Linked DNA regions of Homo sapiens: region 2 is linked to region 1. Evidence: fine-mapped expression QTL. A gene starts in region 1. The other region holds a variant in brackets. All regions are shown on one strand. Distances are from middle to middle.

Region 1 (12,546 bases):
AACACAGAGACCCTGTCTCTATAAAAAGTAAGAAAAAAAATTGCCATGCATGGTGGCACACACCTGTAGTCTCAGCTACCAGGGAAGCTAAGTCGGGAGGATCGTGATTGAGGCTGCAGTGAGCCATGATCATGCCACTGCACTCCAGCCTGGGTGAAAGAGGAAGACCCTGCCTAAAAACAAAACAAACAAACAAACGAACAAACAAAAACTTAATACTACAAAAATCTAGATATCAGAACCAAGTGATGAGTACCTTCAGAGAAATGCGGCCTTGTTACCTCGGTGTGATAGTTCATTACTATAGTTCTAGTTCTCCTTGCAGTTACTAATTACACTTAAGCTCCCTCCATCCTCCACCTCTGGGGGAGTTAGTTACGACCACCAGATGACTTACTGTGGCCAATAAAATGTGAGCAAAAGTGGCATCTGTCTCTTTCAGGCAACAGTTTCGGCAGTTAGTGTTAATAAAGCCAGGCTTTACAGTCTTCTGCTGCAGTCAAGAGAAATGCCCAAATGCTGTCTATTCTGTGAGCATGAGCATAACAGAGAACTCCCAGCTAATGTGTAATAAGCATGTGACATAGGAAGAAATAAACCTTGTTGTTTTAAGTCACTGAGATGGCAGGGGTTATTATAGCAGCATAAACTATTTTCTCTTAAGCTGCATATAAACTAGAAGTGAGATGCCACCTTAACGAAAACTCCAAAACACTGGCTGGGGCCAAGCAGCATAGAAACTGTTCTGGGCCTGCTCAAGGAAACATTTATCAGAGACTGGAGCTAAGCAAGTGACCCACATTAATAAGTTTGATAAAACTGTCACTACAATAATTTGGAGGTGACATGTACCTGATTAACTTATAATGAATGTGTACCTATGTTCCCGTGGCTAATGAACTTATTTATAGCTCTAAAAGAAGAGGCTGGAAGATAGATTAGTACTGTGTGATGGTTGCTGTTGGTGGTGTTTAACAAGGTATTAAAAGAAAAATACCCAGAGAAGAACTGCCATCCAAAAGACTAGATGTTCAAAACTTAAAACAATCCTTAGGCCCCCACCCGTGCATGGTCACAAAGCAAACTGACAAAACTGCTCAGCCACAGAAAGAGGTCAGAGGCCATATGCTCCAAAGCCAATTTCAGATGTGGCCAAGAGTAACAAAAATGGAAGAACCTCACACAGGGCAAAGCCAAGGACCACGGAGAACTATGCTGTAGGGCATGTGCAGAGTAAAAAGTATTTGTTACTTGTCTAAAATAATGACATAAATACAGAAATGGAATGTAAATGTTTAGAACATTTTATAGCAATTTCACACAGTAATTTTATATTTGTTGAATCTAATAATAATTTTAAAATTGGGCTTGTAAATTGATGTTCTTTATTTCACTTTTCCTGTAATTCATTTCTATTGTGTTAGGAGTGTTGTTGTTGTTTCAACTGGCCTAGAGAACTCAGGGAACAGAACTAGAGCCCTAGCAACAACTGCCTAGAGAGATTTCAACCGTAGATTGCTACAATCTAGAGTCTGGTGTGTGTTTTCCATTCTTCCTCTCTCCAAACAGGAATACTTACAGTTATCTCTCCCAGCACTGCCTTATGTGTTCAACAGGGGGTGGCAGACAGATAACTTCTATCTAGACCAGTAAAGAGATGACCACTGCTGGGCATTACTCAGAGATCCTCAACTTTAGGCTTCACATAGTGAAGATGGTAATTTTGAATTACCTCCACCAGGAAAAGCCAAGGAAGAACTACATATACAAAGGAAAGCATTTGTTGACGAGAGACTGTTCAAATGTTTCTAGTTCTCTGCACGTTAAAATTATACATCTCACTTCCTTGAGTTAGGTATGGCCATGACTTGGCCAATGAAATGTGCAAGGTGACATGTACTTCTGGAAGCTTTTAAGAGTCAGTATACATGTGCAATGAACCACAACACACTTTCCCTCTGCCATGATGACTGATTACACTCAAAATTAGGCCTTGTCTGTCAGCCCAAGTCCCAGAAAGAGAACACCATAGGGGAAAGCTCCCAACTGATCCAGTGTAAACTAAACTATTATGTGACGGTTACTATGGGACTGAACGAAGGCAGAACGAATGTAGAAATGAAAACAAAGACAAAATAATCTGTTTTAAAGAAGGGGTCGGGGGCTCCTTGCTTCTAGTGAGCAAGGGCCTTGAGCTTCCACAACCCTTCATATTTATTGGGTAGCAAGAGCAGGGAGGAGCAGGTAATGGTTGGTCAGCTGCTTGATTTATCACAGGTTCACATGATTGCTAACAGGCTTCAGATGTTCCTGTAGATAATCACAAGAAACACTGCGCCTGGGGTGTGACTGGCCTTAGCATTCCTTCTGGGAGGCAGACGCAGTTTGTCAATTCGCCAACAACCTGCCTTCATGAGAACAGTTTGCTGTTTGCTCATATAGCCTCCAGTGGTATACCGAGTTGGTCACAACCCTCATTCTTTCTGCCTCCAACACTATTAGGCCAGGCACGGTGGCTCACACCTGTAATCCCAGCACTTTGGGAGGCCGAGACGGGTGGATCACCTGAGGTCAGGAGTTCGAGACCAGCCTGGCCAACATGATGAAACCTGTCTCTACCAAAAATACAAAAAATTAGCTGGGCATAGTGGCAGGTACCTGTAATCCCAGCTACTCAGGAGGCTGAGGCAGGAGAATCACTTTAACCCAAGAGGCAGAGGTTGCAGTGAGCCGAGATCACACCATTGCACTCCAGCCTGGGCAACAAGAGCAAAACTCCGTCTCAGAAAAAAATAAAATAAACCATTATTTTAAACTTCTAATGTTTCCGGGTTGTTTCCACAGTATAACCCAGTCTAGCACTATTAGTACACCTGGTCTTAGTAACGGGTAAAGGGATTATGACTTGAACATAAGATGACTCTTTAAAATGCAATTGACTATTACCACAAAAGATGCCAATACTAAAAGACGGGAAAAGTAATAGGTAAATGTTTTCCATAGCATGTTTGCCAATACTACAGATACACCTCCCAACTACATGTAGACTTTGATCCTTTGGGCTGCGAGAGGCCCTCAATTCTTCAGTATAATGGTCCTGCTGGCATGGATCAGAGTTGACATATAAGATGTAACTTTTGTCTCATCCCTAAACTCTGAAGAAGTGTGTTTGCACAGCTCATTTAAATAATAGAAAGAATGAGTGACATGTAACTAAAGACTAATACAAGAGGGTAACAGCACTGTAAGAATGGCTCCGTGAGACAATAGTAGAAAAAGGGCTAAAGCGTGCACATAAAATGTTAAAGGCGACAAAAGTGTGTTTTGTTCAGCAACTGAATATTAAGCTCCAAAAGACATCAAGGAGGAAGTACTTCAAGAGAAAACGCTAGTCTTCTTGTAAGGAGACAGTATGAGGATTTGCCTTTGTGTTCCTTAGGCAGGTAGAACAGCTGGTAGCCCTCGTTAGCTCCACTAATCCCATTTTGGTATAGGGTACTGTATGCAATAGTAATTGACAAACAGTTCTGATTTTTTTTTTTTTTTTTTTGAGACAGAGTCTGAACAGAGTCTCTGTCACCCAGGCTGGAATGCAGTGGTGCAATCTCCACTGACTGCAAGTTCTGCCTCCCCGGTTCATGCCATTCTCCTGTCTCAGCCTCCCAAGTAGCTAGGACTACAGGCGCCCGCCACCACACCTGGCTAATGTTTTGTATTTTTAGTAGAGACGGGGTTTCACTGTGTTAGCCAAGATGGTCTTGATCTCCTGACCTCGTGATCTGCCCACCTTGGCTTCCCAAAGTGCTGGGATTACAGGCGTGAGCCACCATGCCCGACCCAAACAGTTCTGCTTTTAAATGTTTGAAAGACTACTGTGCTAGGGTCATCTGTCCTCTCAGAACAACAATATTAAATCTTTATGCATTTGGACACATTTAAATTTTAGAATAGCTGACACCAAGCTTTTCTAGGAAACCCTTGGTTAGTTCCCCCTTTATAGGCCTAATATTCCCTTATGATTAACCATAAAATTAATGGCTTTTCCTCTCAGAAAAGAAGGAAATTAACAACTGTAACTATTAAATAAATTGTAGCAACATCTGTGGCCATCATACTCAGGAAAAAGACACACTTCATATTTTGCAACAAATGGAGTATATAACGCTTACAAAGTTCCCATAAGAACATTCTGTCTGAAGTCAGCTTACTTACAGTTTAATGCTGCTACTGGAGAACAGAACCTGCTCACTGAACCAGCCTCAAATAAAATGTTGATCAGATCTCAACACAGTTTATCATTTCAGACCCAAGGAGGCAATAAAAGGAGTCAACATCTCTCCCCTTTAGAGCCTTTTCAAAGCAGTTGGGAGGAAAATCCTCTACCTGCACCCTCACCGCCCACCTCTAAACACACACTCCCATCCCCCAAAAAAGAGAAAGGAGGCAGCTATCCAGACTTGCTCTTACTGACACATGGCAGGTGGCAGGTAAGCCTCACAGGCCAAGACCTAAAATTAGTATGGGTACTATCCAGATGTTTACTATCACTTTGAGCAGAGAATAGAGGAGAAAAAGAAAAACCTTTTAAAGTCTATTGATGACTTGAAATGTGCACCTCAATGATTATGGAAGATGCAAATAGGCCATGGCAGAGAATATGTGGCGCCCTTGATTTTGACAAGTGCCTAAAATCACACAACTCTGATTTTATGCTCAATTTAAATACTTAAGCACATTACTGCAATCAATTACATCACTGCTGTCATGAGCATCCTGTCTCCTATTTGAAGAGAATTGTGTACCGCCCTGACCACATTCTCTAAAAATACATGAGATGAACTTCTTAGGTTCCAATAAACATAAAATCCTTCTCCAAAGCATAGATGTTGGATTAGGCCTGTTAACTTCTTAGAGCAAGCCGTACCCTCTCATACACTGCACTCTCTACCTGCTCAGCTGAACGTTTCATCTGAGGGATGTCTAGGTAACAGTGCTAGGCCTGTACATCTACCACAGTTTGTCAGCATACCTATAAAGAACTCAAACCACACTAGCATCTGGTACCTGGACAAACGACTGTCCCAGAATCTACAAAATAGACTTTAAAGTTCCCTGTGGAATACTTAGCTAGGAAAAAAGACAGCAACACTCTTCTTGGGCAAAGCATATGACAAAGGCCAGCCTGGACAATATAGTGAAACCTCGTCTCTACCAAAAAAAAAAAAAAAATCAGCCGGGCATGGTGGCTCCAGTGCCTGTAGTCCCAGCTACTTGGGAGGCTGAGGTGGGAGGACTGCTTGTGCCCAGGAGGTGGAGGTTTGTAGTGAACTGTCACTACAGCCTGGGCGACAGAGCGAGACCCTGCATGAAAAAAAGGAAAAAAAAAAAAAAAAGCATAGGACAAAGGATGGTGAGGTAAGAAAAGCTGGGTCTTTGTTGCTCCAATAAACGTAGCAATGTCTTTCACAAGGATACTGAATTCGTAATGTGCTGTGTATTCTAAAGAAAACAAATTATTTCCTTTTAATTTTGCACTACTTGCTAATCTTATTTCCAAATAGGAAAAAAAAAAGTCAACAACTATGTGCCGGCCCAATATACGTTAGTCGATCTGATTATTCCTCGGTTCTTCACAGCAGTAACACAGCATGTATTTTCTCTCTCAGGCCCAGGAATAGCGCCACCATCTACCATACACAGGTCCAAGGCTTCGATACATGTGGAATTTAAACAGTACAGAATATTCTACTTCCTCTCCAGGCAATCATCATACTTACAAGTCTGTTTCTGCCTTTTTCCCAAAACTTAAGCCCAGAGCATCTTCCCAAATTCTACGTTTGAAAGAACCAGCTTCCCCCTGCTCACAGATCGCTTCAACATCCATCTGATACTACTACTACTCTTCCTTAAGAGACATTTCCCTTGGCCTTGGGAGGAAAGGGTCTTTCACTTAAGAGCTCCGATTCTCCCCGTCGCCCCTTTCCATCCCCTCGACCCACAAAGGGCTCCGGTGTTTCCCGCCGTTCATGCAGCGAAAAGAGAAAGCAAAATGCCCTCAGGAGGCTCCAGGTGAGGCCCTTCGGTGCCCCAGAGACGGGTGTCTTAAGTCAGACTCCGGAGCTGTGCAGTGCAGCCCTGGCTACAGAAAGCTGCTTCGTCTGAATCCCCGGGTCTGCAGGCAGAGCCCACAGCCTGAAGGGCCAGCGCTGTCACCTACCTGCCCGGGACCTGCGGGCGGGGACCTGGGCCGTTCCCGAGGCCGCGCGGCCAACAGTTCCCGCCGCCACGCGACGGAGGAGGAGGCAGAAGACGGGGCCGTGCCAGACTAGCCGGGTAGCCTGGAACCACTTCGCCAACCTGCAAAGGCGTAGCACTTCTCCCTCCCAGCCTGCAGCCGCCACCGACTCGGCGGAGTCGGCCTCCTGGGAAAAAACAACCTGCGAAGCTCCTCCTTCTCCTCGTGCTCCCTACGCGAGGCACTCTCTAACCAATGGGAAACGTGGTGGGCGGAGCGAGAGTGACAGACGATTACAGAGTCCTCCCGCCGGCGCGAACGGGCGGTGCAGTAGCAGGGCCAATCAGCAGCGTGGGTGGGAAGTACAGGGGCGGGAGAAAGTAGGGAAATTACGCGCCCAATCAGATCTCGGGGCCCTCGAGCGACGGGTCCTGCGGCCCGTGGCCTTCCGAGCGCGGCGCTCAGGGGGCGTGCCTGCCTGGGCCAATCGGCGCGAGCCCACAGTGCGGAGCGAGCGCCTCAAATGCTCGGGTTTCTCAGCTGATTGTCTCCAGCCGAGAGTTGTTTTTTGCAGCTACGGAGCCGAGCCGCAGCAGGAGGAGCCGAGACCCCCGGGGGGTGGGGGGAAAGAGGAGGCGGGGTCCGGGGGAGCCGCGGCTGCTTTGCGCTGGACTCCGGGTCCCGTCACGGCGCTTCCTGGGGTTAGAGGCTGGGGTGGGTGGGGGGTAAGGGGGCAGTCCTTCTCCCCTTCGACGGCGGCTCCGAGTCCAGCCCCTTCCTTCCCGCGCTCGCTCGCCCGGCCCCCAGCCCCCTCATGAGGGTGTCCGTGCCGGGTCCGGCGGCCGCTGCCGCCCCCGCAGCCGGCCGCGAGCCCTCCACGCCCGGCGGGGGCAGCGGAGGCGGAGGCGCCGTCGCTGCAGCCTCAGGCGCCGCGGTGCCGGGCTCCGTGCAGTTGGCGCTGAGCGTCCTGCACGCCCTGCTCTACGCCGCGCTGTTCGCCTTTGCCTACCTGCAGCTGTGGCGGCTGCTCCTGTACCGCGAGCGGCGGCTGAGTTACCAGAGCCTCTGCCTCTTCCTCTGTCTCCTGTGGGCAGCGCTCAGGACCACCCTCTTCTCCGCCGCCTTCTCGCTCAGCGGCTCCCTGCCCTTGCTCCGGCCGCCCGCTCACCTGCACTTCTTCCCCCACTGGCTGCTCTACTGCTTCCCCTCCTGTCTCCAGTTCTCCACGCTCTGTCTCCTCAACCTCTACCTGGCGGAGGTAAGGCGGGAGGGCCGGCATGCGGGGCCCGGGCGGGTGCGCGGGGCCGCCGGGATCAACTCCCGCTGAGGACCAGCGGGGGCGGGGGGTGGGCAGCGAGAGGCGGACTGGAAACCAGCCTGGGGAAACTGAGGCACACCTGGAGTGTGAGCCAGTGTTTTCGCCTTAAACTTAAGTGGCTGATTGGCTTGATTACTGAGGGGTTCGGGCTAGGGGGTGAGTGAGTGAGTGTGTGTGTCTGACAACTTAAAACAGCAACGGAACGAACCCTTTGTTCGGTGTTCTGGCCCTCCGAGGTAAGGCGTTGGTGGCACCAACAAAGTGGCATCGCAAGAAGTAGCAGCCCCGGTGGCTCTGCCGAAGCCGGACTGTGTTGAGGGAGGTTGGATGCTGAGGTAGCAGCAGCTCTGCTGAAGCTGGACTGCTGCCAGCCATTACGTCACCAGGCAGAGCTGTTCCTCTGCTATTGTTGCTGCGTTTCTTTTATTAGAAGCTTATATTCCCTCCTGCATCTCCTTTCCTGTGGCTCGATAAGCCTCACATAAATTTCGTTCGATAGTTCCCCAGCAGGGTTGATGATCAATAACCAATGCTGAGGATCAGGATAAGGACCTCCATAAAGCCCTTAATGTTTGCCCCAGTTGCTTCGTGCTTTAGCGGTTTATCCTACCTCCTATTAGCATAGTCTTTTTTGGAGCTAATTAAGAGAAAAAAATACTAGCTTAACCTGTGCCTATTGCAGAAACAAAACCACCAAACTGTTTTTGCAATAACTTGCTTAATATCTGGAACCTAATCACACCCCCTTTCTCTTTTATGGGGAATTGCTGGTTGGATTGCATTGTTCTGCAGCGCTTAGGTATTTGACCCATTTCAAACAGGTTTGGGAGTGTAAGGTTGTCAATCATGTGTGTCAGCTTGTGGTATTTAAGCCATAATATTTTAAGACTTTCCCCCAAAAAAGTCCTCCTTCCCACCAAAAGAAAAGCTTGAGGAGGGGAGGAAGCAAGGTGACATCATATGCTTAATACAGACTAATATAGAATAATATTGGCCTATGCAGCTAATCCTCTCAAAGGCTTTTTTGGAGGTGATGGAATTAATGTAGTTCCAAGCAAAAGTAAAAAAAAAAAAAATGACGTATATTAAGTGTTTATATTTCCTGCATAAACCAACTCTTTTCTCCTTTAATAGGAAGTAGAATGCATAATTTTATAATCAGTCATAATGTCAGCTATTTAGCACACTAAAAACAATAGTTGAAAACAACAAAACTAATTTAACTTTTATTATTTTCCTTCTCCATCCTTTGAAAGTCCAAACAATACAATGACAAAAACGCAAACCAGTAAGCGGAAATAAGAAGCATAGGTTATCACAAATCAAATGATGCCATAGTCGTGTCACTTATTTGAGGGTGTTCTAATCTAGTTGTCGTTTAAGCTGTTATAACACTTCTACCCTTTATACTTAAACTGATACATTGTAATCTTCCTGCCACCATTTCAGATAGTGCGTTAGTGACTTCTCAACGCTGAAGCTTTTACTCCAGGTTCAGATGTTTACCTGAAAGTGACTAGCGATTTTTATGCCAGGGGCATCAGATGACTTGTTTTTTCCCTATATATTTTGATTTACAAAATAATATGAATGATTCACTGTAAAATAGTTGGTAGGCATTTCATAAAGTGGGTAAACACTCTTTTTACTTCTTGAGGTATAACATATACAATAAAGTCCACAATCTTAAATGCACACCTAGATGAAATTTTATATCTGTATACACCCATGTTACCACCACCCAGATTAAGATATAAAGCATTTTCCGTGTCCCAGAAGTTTCCCTTTTTACCCTCTCCCAGTCAGTAGCTCCCCCAGGTAAGCACAAAGTGGGTAAACACTATCCAAAAAAGGAGATATATTTAAGCTCAAAATTCTGAAGGTATGCTTATATAGCATAGAATACACGGAGTATCTAGATTGGGTCTTCAGACTTTGAGCTAATATTCCAAGCTAGTGAGGAAGAATTTAAAATCTGAAAGTCTTCCTGTTAAATGTTTGTGTAATATGCTTTTTTAAAAACGATAAAACTCTATTAACCTGAAAAATACAATTTGGAAAGAAGCTGGGATAAAGCTTTTTTCCTTTGTAATGCCTGCTAAAAAGAGTGTGAGTTGTTTGTCTATCCTTTCTTTTTATAATGAAATTAACAATTTTAGGACACAGTTGTACTTAAGAGAACAAATTGTCAATTTTTTGAAAGCCTGTTTGAAAGGAGATATCTTAACCAGAAATCATTTCTCTTTTCATTAGAGAAAATCTCCAGGAACCTGTATTTAAGAGAGTATTTTAGTTCAAATTTTTATGTCAGTTCCAGATAACTGCAAGTATACTTCCCATTGATCATTCTGAATTAATGAAGTTTTTCCTAGTGAGTTCTTCATATTATAGCAAAGTGGTAGGGAAAGCCTATGTGGTGATAAATATAAGACTTAACTGATGTTTAATTTTTTTAACCAAAAGCCCCTATAACTTTTTTGAATAGTCGTGTGTCTTGATTACCAACTCACTCTGTCTTTGCTGTATGCCGTATTAAATACCAATTCCATATTACTTTTCACTTGTTTAAAGCATTTGTTTTTTTCTGATTCTCACTAAGAGTAGCTTTAAGGACTTAGTTATAAAGAATCGTGGATCAGTATAAAAAGTAAAACAAACTCTACTACTTTGAATACATTTTGGTGGATATTCTAAAACTCATGTTTTTGAAAAGTTAAGAAATGCCTCAACCCCTTTTTTCTTTTTTTTTTTTTCTTGGTGTCTACACTTGAATGGAATTGAGATGAGGGAAAGTAGCCCTTTCTTAAACAGTTAAGCTTCTCAGTGTCTCATACTTAACCTCCTGGAAGCCTATAGTTGAGAGAGAGGGGGAAAAAAAAAAGAAAAGCCACCTTGTACACTAATCTAAAAACACATTTTGAACTTCTGGCAGGATCAGTAGGACAAGAGCTTTTCCAGAGAAGGGTTCACACTCCTGGAGTTTTACCGGAGAAGACTTCAATATTTGAAACAGACTATCTGATAAAACTGATTCTATCTACCATTAGAACATATTGAAGGACTTAAAAGGAGAATTGACAGCATCACACAATATATCCATGTAAGAAACCTGCACATGAACCTCCTGAATCTAAATTTTTTTTTTTAATGAGAGTTGATGGTATACCATCTTGGAGTGTTGTGATGCATGCCAAAATCAATGAGTTCATCTTCAACATATTGAAGTTCTTACTTTCAGTTTGGTCTTAGGAGTGCCAGTTGCTTAATCAGGATAAAGTACAGTGACTTAATTACAATGCCAAAACAGATAGGAAAATTAAATTCAAAATCTTAACTCTTACATTTATGGATGCTATTATTGTCCCTACCAGTAGATATATTCTTATATTGGTAATACTTCAAATAACATGCAAGTCAACTTACAGGTTCATTTGATTTTGTTCTGTTCTTTGATTTCCCACAAAAGTTGAAATCACATTTCTACCACCTAAAATAGAAATTCCTTGAGGATAAGAAGGAATATTTTACATATTTTTATCTCCAGCAACTAGAACAATGATGATTATATTATTGAATGACACTTTATAAAAAGGTCAAAATTTAGAAAATAGTTATCTAAAATATGGGGGTTAACTTTATTTTGATGAACATTTGAGGTAAATTATGTATTGTCTGGAATCTATTTTCTGCCTAAAAGATTTCATACAATATAGAGTTTTGTTTAATGAAACTTTTTATATCATGGCAAATGGCCCATACTAATTAAGGCTTTGCTAATTTAGTTTCAACAAATTCTACAAAATAGAAAAGTCTGTAAGATGAGTCTCATATCCTGAGTCAGTTACTGTTTACCAGAAATACTGGTTTAGTTCAATGTTTGACTTTTATCCATAACTGACTATAAACTGTTTTTGTCTGAATCTACTAAATTTTTTCACTATCTTGATCTTATTTCTCCTGAAATCATCTGTGAAGCCGAAGTTTCAGATACATACCTGTAACAAAAGACATGATTATAATGCCTTATATTTTATGAAATTGGTATTTTCAAAGCACTTTGTAACATTTGTCTTCACAACCCCCATGAAATAGAAAGAGATGTGATTTGTCCAAAATTAAATGGCTAATATGTATCAGTTGTGATACTATTGTATAGCTCAGGTGCTATGAAGTCTTATCAAGTAATTTGTTTCTATACCATGAACTTTCCTGGATACATCACTTCTTTAATAGTGCTTTTCTAACTTGCTTTCCCGTTTTTCACATGGTTTCAAACCTTTTCCACTGTCTAGCAAACTCTTTCTTCACCTTTCATCCACTGCATATGACTCTTGGTTTAAAGAAGTAGAAGCCAGGTCATCTGGCCTACCAGAGATTCAGAGAAATGCTGCAGAGAGTAGTCAGTCTTTTTCAGTGCATAATTGGGCTGGCAAGAAAAGGCCAGAAACTACCAAAAAAAAAAAAAAATGCAGAATGATAAAATATCACACAAATGTGTGTCTTGGGGGTAGGGCAGGAGTGGTTTTCAGCTGCCTCCTGTTAGCCTACTGCCCAGATTTTAATTTTGTGTGTTGAAGGTGTAGGGAGGTGTCGTTGCAGGCTGTGCCTTGCAGTGAGGTCTTATAAAAGACTTCATCCCCTCCAGCATAATGCCAGAATCCTTTAAGTGTACACCTTCAGTGGATCAGCTAGGAAAATAAGCAGGTCCTCAGAGCTAGATAGGGGGTACAAATTGGTAAATAAGTCTTCCCTGGGAATGCAAAATAAGCTCATTCTTGCACAAGTTTGAAGCCTAAATTCACATCAGTTCTGTGATTGAGAGGAGCAGACTGGGGGGTTTCAGGAGATCTAACTTGAAAACATAAAGTTATCCTTGCTTGATACTAACCTCAAGGAGCTGTAAGAAGCAGATGCAAAGCATCTGTGGAAGAATGTACTTTAAACCCAGACTTCTGACAGATAAAATTCCAAAAAACATGGGTTCAGAATAAAA
Region 2 (12,546 bases), 110 kb before region 1:
CCGTGATTACACCACTGCACTCAAACCTGGATGAGAGAGTGTGACACTGTCTCAACAACAACAAAGAGTCCAGTTTAAAGTGTAGCATGTAGCAAATATTATATTTAACAATAGTTATTTTTTAAGGTCAACACTGCGGCCTAGCGGTCTGAGACTATGACAAAATGCCTGAAACATCCCAATTCTGCTAATTACTTGCTGAGGGAACTCTACAAAGATCTTAATGTTTTCAACTGCAAATAAAACTGTAATAATGTATGGGTAATAAATACATTATTCATCAAATCAGTAATGATAATAAATAATACTAATTAACATTTATTGAGCCTTTACTATACACATGCACTATTCATTTTATCTTTACAATTTTATAGACGAGAACACTAAAGCATACAAATATCAGGGAACTGGGCCAAAGTTAAGTGTAAATCTCAAGTAAGAATTGCCAGTGGCCACAGTTTCACAGAAATTAAGATATGCAATAAGTAAGGTGAGGCAGACACCAGTGGCACCATGTTACTGAGTTAGGCTATTTCCAGAATGTTCCTACAACTCATCCGACCCCAACCCCATCTCAGAACACCACTGTTGGCAAAGATCTATCTAACAGAGATGCTGAGAGCAGGCCCTGCTAGCACAGAAGGCAGAATCCAATACACAGAGACTGTTCAGTTTTCTTTTTCCTGCTGCAGAGGCTACAGGATTAATTTAAGAATAGGAGCAGTGATGCATAGAAATGATGGAAACCCGTAAAGAATGAGCTGGCAAAGATGTTAACAAAATTGCAATAGAAGACACGCCAGTCTCTCAGAAAACTCAGAAGTATAACGTTGATTCTTTCCTCTGGGTAATGGTTTGAGCTGAGGAATCAAAGCCCTCAGGGATGTTCCTTGCAGGAAAGGATCTTTACATAGGTGATGATAATACATTAGAGTTTATACTTTACAAAGTGCCTCTGCATTCATTTTTTAATAACTATGTGATGTATTCAGAGTGGAAACTATTAAACTCATTTTATAGTTGTAGAGGAGGAAACCAAGAATGACTTGCCTAGAGCCACATAGTAATCTAGGAAGCTAGGGCAGGAGCTCAGGTTTCTATGTTTTGAACATGTCTGCTTTTTTTTTTTTTTTTTTTTAAGTAATTCTGTTTGAGAAACATTCTAGCCCTAGCTACACATAATCTTGAGTTACAGTCCATGGGAACTCTGTGTCACTGCAGCTACAACATGACAATACTCATTTGCTTCTATAAAATAGCAATGCAGACAGTTAAGTGAACATAGACTTTCTGAGGAGTTTAAGAGCTACAGCTGAAAAGATCCCTATACCATGTGGTGAGAATGAAGTAGTCAAAGATGACTGATAACTACAGAAAGGTCTCCTTCCAGATCCACTTAAACAAAATATTGAATTTAATTAATTAATTCTGTCCCGTTTCCTAGGAAAATATTAAAACCAATAAATTGCCTCAGAAAATTAAGACAAAAATATCATCTAAAGGAACCCAGAATAGCCAAAATTGTCTTGAAAACAAAGAATAGGGCCAGGTGCAGTGGCTCATGCCTGTAATCCCAACACTTTGGGGGGCTGAGGAGGGAGGGTTGCTTGAGGCCAACAGTTCAAGACCAGCCTGGACAACACAGTGAGACCCTGTCTCTACAAAAACAAAAACAAAGACAAAAACAAAAAAATGAAGCCAGGCTTGGTGGTGCATGCATGTAGTCCTAGCTACTTGGAAGGCTGAGGTAGGAGAATCCCTTGAGCCCAGGAGTTCGGGGCTGTAGTGTGTGATGATCGCACCCCTGCACTCCAGCCTTGGTGACAGAGTGAGACCCTGTCTCAAAAAAAATAACAAAATGAAATAAAAGAAAATGAAAAACAAAGTAGGAGTAATCAAATTTCCCAATTTTAAAATCTACTACAAAGCTACAATAATCAAGACAGTGCAGTACTAGCATAAAGACAGGCACCAAACCATATACATGTATGCTCATAGCAGCATTATTCATAATCGCCATAAGTAAAGGCAACCCAACTGTCCATCAACTAAGGAATAAACAAAATGTGACATATCCTTGCAGTGGAATATTATTCATCCATAAAAAGGAATGAACTACTGGTTCATGCTATAACGTGGTTGATCCTTGAAAACCTTATGATAAGTGAAAGAAGTCAGACATAAGAAGCCACATATTATATGATACCATTTATATGAAATGTCTAGATTAGGCAAATCCATAGAACCATAAAATAGATGAGTGGGTGCCAAAGGGTGGATAGAGGAGAAAATTGAGAGTGACCGCTAATGGGTATGGGGTTTCTTTTTGGGGTGATGAAAATGTTCTGGAATTCAACAATGGTAGTAGTTGCATGATCTTGAGAATGCCTGAAAAAGTACTGAATTGTACACTCTAAAAGGGTGAATTTTATGGTATATTATATTTCAATAAAAATACCATCCATATTTTATTTAAGCATAATATGTTTGTTAAAACTGCTTAACTTGACAGAAATGAAGCAGACCACTTAGGAAGGATGGGTTTGGTGTAATGATTGACCCTAAAATAAATTAAAGTAGCTGATGAAATACATACAAATATACATAATGGTAGATTCATACTATACCTGATAGTTGACATAATATTGAATGAGAATTTGTATACCAGAGTGTATGTGTATATACATACGTACACACATACATACATATTTACATATATACACACACATACAAACCTTATTTCAGGACTCTGTCATGGAACAGTATCAAAATATTATTTTAGGATAGACCATCTAGTATCTAATAAAATCCTTATATAGTACCTAGGAGACTTTTTGTTACATTTCACACTATTTGTTCAATATACTATAATAATCTAGGTTGCTACATGTTTACTTATTTAAACTATAGCTACAGGCCTATTGTTGCCACAACTATGTATAAATGGTTAAGACTCAAATATAAATTAATATATATATCCATACTACAAATATAAATTTTTCTATGTTTTCAGAAAAGTGGATATTATGGCATGTTATAAGCCAGGATAATAGATTCTGGGCCAAGATCTATTTTCTTGTGGTTCAAAATTCTGGCTCTGTCCAAATCAGAAAGGAAGTTAAATTGTTCCTGTTTGCAGGTAGCATGATCTTATATACAGAAAACGCCTAAAGACTCCACAAAAACACCTGTTAGAACTAATCAACAAATTTAGTAAAGTTGCAGGATACAAAATAAACAAACTGGACCTTATCTCACTCTTAACTCAAAAGATATTAAAGACTTAAATGTAAGAACTTAAATTACTAAAAGAAATTATTAGACAAAAACATTATAGAAACTCTCCAGGATATTGGACTGGGCAAAGATTTCTAAATACCCCATAAGCACAAGCAACCAAAGCAAAAATGGACAAATGGGATCACATCAAGTTAAAAAAAAGCTTCTTCACAGCAAAGGAAACAATAAACAATCAACAATGTAAAAAGATAACCCACAGAATGGAATAAAATATTAGCAAACTACCTGTCTGACAAGGGATTAATAGCCAGAGAATATAAGGAGCTCAAACTACTATGGGGAAAAAAACAACTAATAATCTGATTTAAAAATTGGCAAAAGATCTGAATAGACACTTCTGAAAAGAAGACATTCAAACGGAAAATAGGTCTATGAAAACAGATATTTCTCTGATCATCAGAGAAAAGCAAATCAAACCTACAATGAGATATCACCTCACCCCAGTTAAAATGGCTTTTATCTCAAACAAAGGCAATAACAAATGCTGACAAGGATGCAGAGGAAAAGGAAGCCTTGTACACTTTGTGGGGCTCAAGACTTCAGTGGAGAAAGTAGCTGCAGATGGGGTATAAATAACAAGAGAACTAGAATTAGAAGTGGTGCCTGAAGGTGAAACTAAATTGCTGCAATCTTATGATGAATCTTGAACGGATGCTTCTCATGAATAAGCAAGGAAAGCGGTTTCTTGAGTTGGAAACTACTGGTGAAAATGCTATGAACATCGTTGAAATGACAGCAATGGATTTAGAATATTCCATAAACTTAGTTGATAAAGCAGCAGCAGCGATTCAAAGGATTGATTCCAATTTTGAAAGAAGTTCTACTGTGAATAAAATGCTATCAAACAGCATCATATACTACAGAGAAATCTTTTGTGAAAAGAAAGGTCAATCAATGCTGCAAACTTCATTGTTGTCTTATTGTAAGAAATTGCCACAGCCCAAACTTCAGCACTTCAGCAACTACCACCTGTCAGTTAGCAGCCATCAGCACAGAGACAAGACCCTCCTTCATCAGCCAAAAGGTTACAATTCCTTGAAAGCTCAGATAATTGTTGGCATTTTTTAGCAATATTTTAAAACTACGGTAAAAACATTTTTTAGACATAATGCTATTACACATTTAATAGACTTCAGTATAGTGTAAACATAACTTTTATATATACTTAGAAACCAAAAAATTTGTATGATTTGCTTTATTTCAATATTTGCTTTATTGTGGTGGTCTCATACTGAACCCTCAATATCTCTGAGGTATGCCTGTACTTAGAACCAGAATTTTATATAACAATAATGCACTATTTGTAAAATATCCTCATTTTCTATAAAACCACATATTTGCTTACAGTTATAAAAAGAAAACAAGCTGGCATGCACATGGAAAAAGCTGCACAAGAAATATCTTCTGAAATCTACAATTTTAAATTTTATAAAAATAGATGAAATACTTATGCTTTGGTAGGCCAAAGCTCCCACTGTAACAACTTTTTTAATGGCATAAATTACCAAAATCATATGTTTGAATACACTGGTGATCTATACAAGTAACATGGACTCAATGAATTAAAATTCAAGAAACAGGCCTTCACAGGGGAGCCGATCACTGACTGAAGCCTTGCACCTTTGGCCTCCCAGTCAGAGACTGTCCACATGGATGATGCTACCAGCATTTTAATAACTCATCCTACCATTCTTTAGCTATATTTAGAGTTTAACATTTATGGAACAAAATGCAGAACTACATGTATTAAACAAAACAGAAAACTTACTGATATGATTTTCTAGTCCTGCTTCTAATTTCTTCAGCCACAATACAAGGTTTTCTTCAATTATAGCCTGGTCTGAAGGAAATGCAAATACTTGGCCACCTGAATGCAGATTCACCAAAACAAGAAGAGGAAGGGGAGGCAGAGGATCAAAATATGCCCTCAAGATTCCTCTCCCCACTGGAGTATTCTTTCTGCAAAAGGGAACAATTGAACATATTAATATTTCTTTCTACAACAAAATAATGAAAATAGTAATTCGTAGAACATTAAACTTTTAAGTAGTATCATGCCAGTAAGTTCACTTTATGAAAAGATGTCCTAAAAACCAAGAAGTCTACGACATGTTATTAGTAACCGGATTCTTTTAAAGTTTCTTTTTAACATGGGGCACTTTGTTTCACTTGGGAGAAAAGCGGCAGCCAATGACAATTTTAATGAAAAGCAGGCATAGCCCAAAGGCTTGTCAATTTAGGCTTGACGCAACCAGTAGTTTCCTTCCAACATTTGGCCAAGTATCTGATCATACATCAGCTCAAAAATTAAATGATTACATAACTAGAAGATAACAAGATACTTATTTTTATAAATACTTCTTTTCCATAGAATTGTGCCTTTTCTCAGGAAAAGGCATTAATTTCAAATTAAAGAAGTAGAAATAATTATGTTCATACAAGGAAACTCTAAGTTAAAGATACTTAGTTTTCCTAATGTAACACATTCTACAGTTTATAAAATACTATTTTACTCTTAGATACCTGTAATGATAATTGCCTGGGAAAATGTTGCCTCAAGCAGTAGAATGCACTGTTAAACTCTTCACAGCAAAAATGTACACTGCCCCATTTCTGTTATTTTTCAAATGATTTTAAAGAATAAATATGTCTTTCATCTGATGAATCTGAACAAGGGGCAGTATATTATTTGTGAATTTTGTTCACAGACATTAAATGTAACACAATCCATACATCTAGAAAACATACTAGGAAATATTGCTGATGAATGCACTGAAATCTGTCTGAACTTTAAAAATATAGAAGTACAGAAAAAGGAACTGAAGGAAAAGTCCAAAAATCACAATGTTTACTATTCTGTATTTGCCAAATTTTCTCAATGGGCATCAATTCCTTTTAAAAAGTAGAACAATTATTTCTTTTAAAATTTTACTGTAGAATAAAATTTAATCTAAAATAAGGTCATCTTGGACCTTGTTTGGGGGAGTTTTGTTACTAAAATATCATGGTGACATATTTGGTTCCATAAAATTAACTCCAAAGAGTTAGAGAGTTTCGTTTCCTAATGAAAATGTAATAATTATTACTTTCTTTACCTCTTACATATTAAAAAATAAACACATACTTACAGATTTAACCAGCATGGAGTAAATGAATCCAAGTATTTCTGCTTTACCAGTGTCAATATTGCTTTTTTATA[C/T]TGAGGATTTACAGTGCCATCACTGAACAAAATCAATAATGGTTTCTGAAGTCTGAAATAACTGGGAAGATTTTCCACAGTGATTTCCGGCTGTCAAAGAAAAGGAATAACAACAATAAAAAATGCATTGGGGATGATAATGCATACCACAGAAGACATTCAAATCACTCAGTCAATTTTAGTTTGTAAAATGTAATTCAAACACATTTTCACTTAAGTAGAGATTTTACTATATTAATAACTATGAATCTCAATCGTCTTATTCAATCCCACCTCATCTGAATGAGTTATTTTCAAAATAAAACTACACAGAATTTGAGAATAAATTAATTTAAAGGAGTCCCCTGTTTTACAAGATGTAACACTTCTAATAATTTATTATGCTAAAGTCTGGACCAGACTAACCAATATACACATGACAATTGTTATATTTTTTCCTCTAACATAACAATTTTGAAGAAAACTGTAAGCTGAAAAAGTATTTTCTTTAACATCTATCATTACTTAATAAATATAAAATTTTACTTTTTCCAATATTATGGTTAAAATCATAATTAAAATAACCAAAAATATGCTAAAACAAATCCAAACACCAATCTTGTTTCTTTTGAGTTTAAAATAACTGAAAGAATTTAATATGAAATTAGAAATCTAATCCTTTTATCATTTTTATTACTAATTAAAAGATAGGAGGCTGGGAGTGATGGCTCACGCCTGTAATCCCAGCACTTTGGGAGGCCGACGCAGGCAGATCGCCTGAGGTCAGGAGTTCGAGACCAGCCTCACCAACATGGCAAAACCCTGTCTCTAATAAAAGTACAAAAATTAGCTGGGTATGGTGGTGCCCGCCTGTAATCCCAGCTACTCTGGAGGGTGAGGCAAGACAATCGCTTGAACCCAGGAGAGGGAGGTTGCAGTGAGCCGAGATTGTTCCACAGCACTTCAGCCTGAGCAACAGAGTGAGACTCTCAAAAAAAAAAAACCCAAAAAACAAAAACAAAAACAAGATAAGGAGGTAATCATTCTCCTGCAATTCGCCCATGCTATGCACATTAAAATAAAATTTTGTATGCCTTTCTCCTATTAATCTGCCTTTTTTCAGTTATTTTCATGGAACCTTCAGAGGACAAAGAGGAAGCTTTCTCTTGGCCACTGCACTCTTTTTATCTTAGAAATACTTCCTTTCTCCACTCACCTCCAACTCAAGGAAGGGCCTAAAATTCTATTATATTAATATTAGCAGTAATGACTGTCTATCCTCTCTCTCTTTCTATTCTCTCTTTCACACCTTTCTGTAATGGGGTAGACTTAAACAGTCACTTGATTACAAGTCAGAATCCCAGGTTCTGGATTCATGGAATTGTCACAGTAATAAAACTTTGAGCAAAGCACTCTGTACCCCAGTTTTTAAATCTGTGAAATGAGGGAATTGAAAGAAAAAAAATAAAAGAGAATAACCATTTTAAAATGTATTTGTAGAAGACAATTTGTCTACGCTGTCAGTAACAAGAATTGGAAAGTGCAACAACAATGCTAATATATTTAGGATTAAAAATAGCAATGACATAGAATAATAAAACCTTCTACCATTTTCAGTTCCACGTCCATTATTTCATCCTCTGGATACACCTGCGAGCTAGATATATCATCCTGTATCAGATAGATAACCCCCAGCTGACATATGGGGAAGCCAACACAGAGACTAACTTGCTTAAGTCACCACGGCTAAGCAGGGGGAAGGAGTGATGGTAGAATCCAGGCATTCTGCTCACCAGTTTCCCCTTTCTTTAGATCGCACTACAAATTCAGATGAACTTGTTTTTAATGGTGTCACCCACCTCTAAATATAGTCCTAGTTCATCCTGAAGTGCCAAATTCTGGCATATAACTTTCCCTTTTCAGTTCTCAGAGCAGCTTGCATTTGCCCATTCTCATTTTTCTTCTAATTATCTCTCTTTCACACTCAAAATCTCCTTCTTACACCTTCCTCTTTCATGGCTTAAATCTTAGATCACTTTTTCTCCAAATTCCCCTATGCTGTCTTCTTGTGTTAGCTTTCATCCTTTAATCTTGTAGTTGAGTTAGATCCCTCTCCTAAATATTGACAGATCTTTTATTGAACAAGCAGAAACATTAGGTGAGACAGAGTCACCACAGCTCAATTCAAACATTTATTGAGGACAAAGTTCAAGATGTTATGCTGGGTGCTGAATCTATAAAGAAATAAGATCCTTTCCTTGCCTTCAAAGAGTTCATACTTTAGAAGAGAAGACAGGTAAGTATACAGACTGCTATAATAAATAAAAAATTTAATGTATGACAATAAGAAAACTTATTGGTTCGAAATTAAACAAGCTAAAAACACAAGGTAGGTGTGATGGTTAATACTAAGTGTCAACTTGATTGGATTGAGGGATGTAAAGTATTGATCCTGGATGTGTCTATGAGGGTGTTGTCAAAGATTAACATTTGAGTCGGTGGGCTGGAAAAGGCAGACCCACCTTAATCTGGGTGGGCACCATCTAATCAGCTGCCAGCACAACTAGAAAAAAACATAAAGCAGACAGAAAAAAGTGTAAAGACTAGACTGGCCTAGTCTCCCAACCTACATCTTCTCCTGTGCTGGATGCTTCCTGCCCTCGAACATCAGACTCTTAAGTTCTTCAGTTTTGGGACTCGAACTGGCTTTCCTTTCTCCTCAGCTTGCAGATGGCCTATTGTGGGACCGTGTGATTTTTATTAGTTAAAACTTAATAAACTCCCTTTTATTATATCTATCCTATTAGTTCTGTCCGTCTAGAGAAACCTGACTAATACAGTAGGGGAGCTCATGGATGATTTTAGGAATTGATATTTGAGCTGGACCCTGGATAAAGAATAAGATCTTGACAGACTGAGGTGTGTGCTTGAGCAGGGATTTCAGACATAGGGAACATCATGAAGATAGGCAGAGAGCTATTAAAGCATACATAATATTTTGGAATAGTGATAATGAAGGATGCCAGAGTTAGGCATGCAAGAGGCAAATATGGCTGTGAGACCAGATGAGTAATGCCTTCATAAGTATTCTAGCTCCTGGGAATACTGAGAAGATTTCTGTATCAGATTGGTGACACAGTTAGGCCTGTTTTTCAAAAGATGACTAACTAGAATATAAATTTGTGAAAAGAAGGACCAGTGGAAGGACCCTACTCTTTCCTATGTCTAGTCAAAAGAGAAAGACCAAGAGATTTGTGAGTTTAGAAGGAAACTGAGTTCTAAAATTAAACACTCGGATTTAGGAATCATCAGCTGGTAGTGATGGTAGAAGTTATGGGTATGGATAAAATTTTCCAAAGAAAAGACATAGCAAAAGAAGAAAAAAAAAGAGTTGAAGATGTAATTCTAGGGAATAAATGAGACAGAGGATGGTCAGATGGACAAAAGAGGACTGAATTACAAAAGCCGGAAGAAAAGAGAATGTTGAGGAGGAATGGTATAGACAACAGTTTTGACTGCTACTGAGACACTAAGGAGAAACACAGTTAAGAGGTCATCAAATGTGGTACTTGGAAGGTGACCTTTGGCTCTCTGAGTATATAACAGACTATAACTGTGTGGGTCCTGGTGTTCTAAACTTGTCAATAATAAAAGCATAAAAAAGGAACTCAGTTTATCTGAGAAAAATACTAAACCCTATTTCCTAACAGGAAACAGTCTTAAATATATCAATGCTTATGTAGTTAATTATTGTGTATTTCAGATTTAAGCATTATTTATCTGGCCCAATTTGTCATCAGGTTCATTAAAATAAAAACTTCATACCATAATAAAAAATCTTCACCCTCTGGTCATCAACTCTCCTTCCTCATCCAGATGAAGGCACTAAAGTCTCTCTAAAGCCTATTTAATCTTTATTATAGCTGTTCAGTATTAAGTTGAACACCACAAATAAAAACATTGGAAACAAACTGTCACAATGCATATTACATTTGTTGTTACTGTAAACAGATTTTGATACTAAGTTTCTCCTACGTTTCTAAGGTTTAATGAATATAATCTTTAAAAAAATTAGAGACCAATTTTTATCCACTAAATATACCAAGATAAAAAGAGTAAAATGATACAAATCTTCTGTCAGGAAATACAAAAGTTATCAGAAGCCTCAAAAGTGGGCCTACTCTTTGGACAACCAATTCAAATTCTAGAAATTTAACCTAAATCCATAATCATAGATACACCCAAAGATTACCTAAAAGGATGTTCCCTGAATTATAAATAAAACAAAAACTAAAGACAGCTTAAACAACCATCAAGAGGAAATGGGCTAAATAAATTTTGGTACATTAGTAAACAATATTATGCAGATGTTAAAAATTAAAATGTGTATCTATAGTACTTGATGGAAATACATTAATATAAAAAGGCACACAGATACATACAGAATTTAGGTTTGGGGAAATGTATTTCCTAACGTAAACTTGGGTAGAAAAGTTATGGTTGATTATAATTTTCTTCTTTATCCTTTCTGTATTACCTGAAAAAGCCAAACAAAGGCTTCTAGTAATTCCAAAAATACTACACTATGTATATGCTAAAGGAATTACTTAATAACATGTCATTAATAACATAAATGTTACTTTAATAAGTAATTTAGAAACATACATCATGAACATATCAATTCAATGATTTGATTATTTATAACCTATAATTTTAACAGGAGGAAAGGACAGAACCAAGACACAAAAAGACTTAATAAAGACTGCAGTCCCTTAGTTGAGCCCAAAATGTAATGTCCTTTAGATCATCAAGACAAAAAACCTAACAGGATATTCATTTAGCATCTATAGCTAATAAAAATGCTCCTTGAGTCACTTCAGAAATGTAGAAAAGTATAAATTCTAGCTATGTTTAATATGAAAGCAAACAACTAAAATCAGGTAACACAGGTTACATTTGTTGTGCCCTTGAATCCACTATTATACAGTCATGCATCGCATGATGTTTCAGTCAACAATGGAGTACATGTAAGATGGTGGTCCCATAAGATTATACCATGTTTTTACTGTACCTTTTCTATGTTTAGATTCACAAATATTTACCATTGTTACAAGAGCCTACAGTATTTAGTAAAGTAACATGCTGTACAGGTTTGTAGCCTAGGAGCAATATGCTATACCTTACAGCGTAGGTACGTAGTAGGCTATACCACCTAGATTTCTGTAAGTACACTCTATATAAAGTTTGTATGATAAAACTGCCTATCGATGCATTTCTCAGAAGATATCCTCGTTAAGTGATGCATGACTGTAAAAGTAAAACATAAGAAAAAGCCTTTCATAAGACAATATTTTTTTCTAAAACTGTACAAATAGGAGAGTGAAGCAAGATGGCAGACTAGAGTACTCTACCAGTCATCCCCTCTTCCCCTGCAATGACTACTGCAATTTAACAACTATCTACACAAAAAAGCACCTTCATAAGAACCAAAAATCAGGTGAGTACTCACAGTACCTGGTTTTAACTTTATATCGCTCAAAGAGGCACTGAAGAGGTAGGAAAAACAGTCTTGAATCATCAATGATACCCTTCTCCCATCCCCTGGCAGTGGCCACACTGCATGAAGAGAGAATCTATGTGTTTGGGAGAGGGAGAGCACAGCAATTGTGAGACTCTGCATTGAACTCAGTGCTGCCCTGTTTTAACAGCAGGCAAAACCAGACTGAACTCAGTGCATGCTCGCCCACAGTGGGTGTATTTAAACCATCTCTAGCCAGAGCAGAAATGCCCATCCTAGAAGTCAGAACTTGAATTACAGCAAGACTTGTCACCTCAGGCTGGAGTGTGCTGGGGCCCAAATAAACTTGAAAGGCAGTCTAGGCAACAAAGGCTGCAACTCCTAGGTGAGTCCTAGGGCTGAACTGGGCTCAGAGCCAGCAGACTATAGGCACACATGACCTACTGAGATACCAGCCAGGACAGCTAGGGGAGTGCTGATGCCACCTCTCCCCTAATCCCAGGCTGCACAGCTTGTAGCTCCAAAAGAGACCCCTTCCTTCTGCTTAAGG

Evidence for each region. PIP is the estimated chance that this variant, and not a neighbour inherited with it, causes the effect.
Region 2: its variant is the best candidate, but not a certain one, in a credible set for the expression of TXNDC16 in whole blood (TOPMed, PIP 0.52).

The regions. Positions count from the first base shown.
Region 1 is chr14:52,546,099-52,558,644 of GRCh38, forward strand. TXNDC16 (thioredoxin domain containing 16) reads right to left here and starts at 6,407. Exons shown (of 21, transcript NM_020784.3): 1 at 6,218-6,407. It overlaps GPR137C (G protein-coupled receptor 137C), which reads left to right and starts at 6,738. Exons shown (of 7, transcript NM_001099652.2): 1 at 6,738-7,493. The coding sequence starts at 7,050. RefSeq lists silencers at 6,928-6,997, 7,008-7,207.
Region 2 is chr14:52,434,136-52,446,681 of GRCh38, forward strand. TXNDC16 (thioredoxin domain containing 16) reads right to left here. Exons shown (of 21, transcript NM_020784.3): 19 at 6,429-6,589; 20 at 5,069-5,259. Among named protein-coding and RNA genes, the nearest start is that of TXNDC16, 110 kb to the right of the region's middle. The variant C/T (reference allele first, on the strand shown) is at 6,500.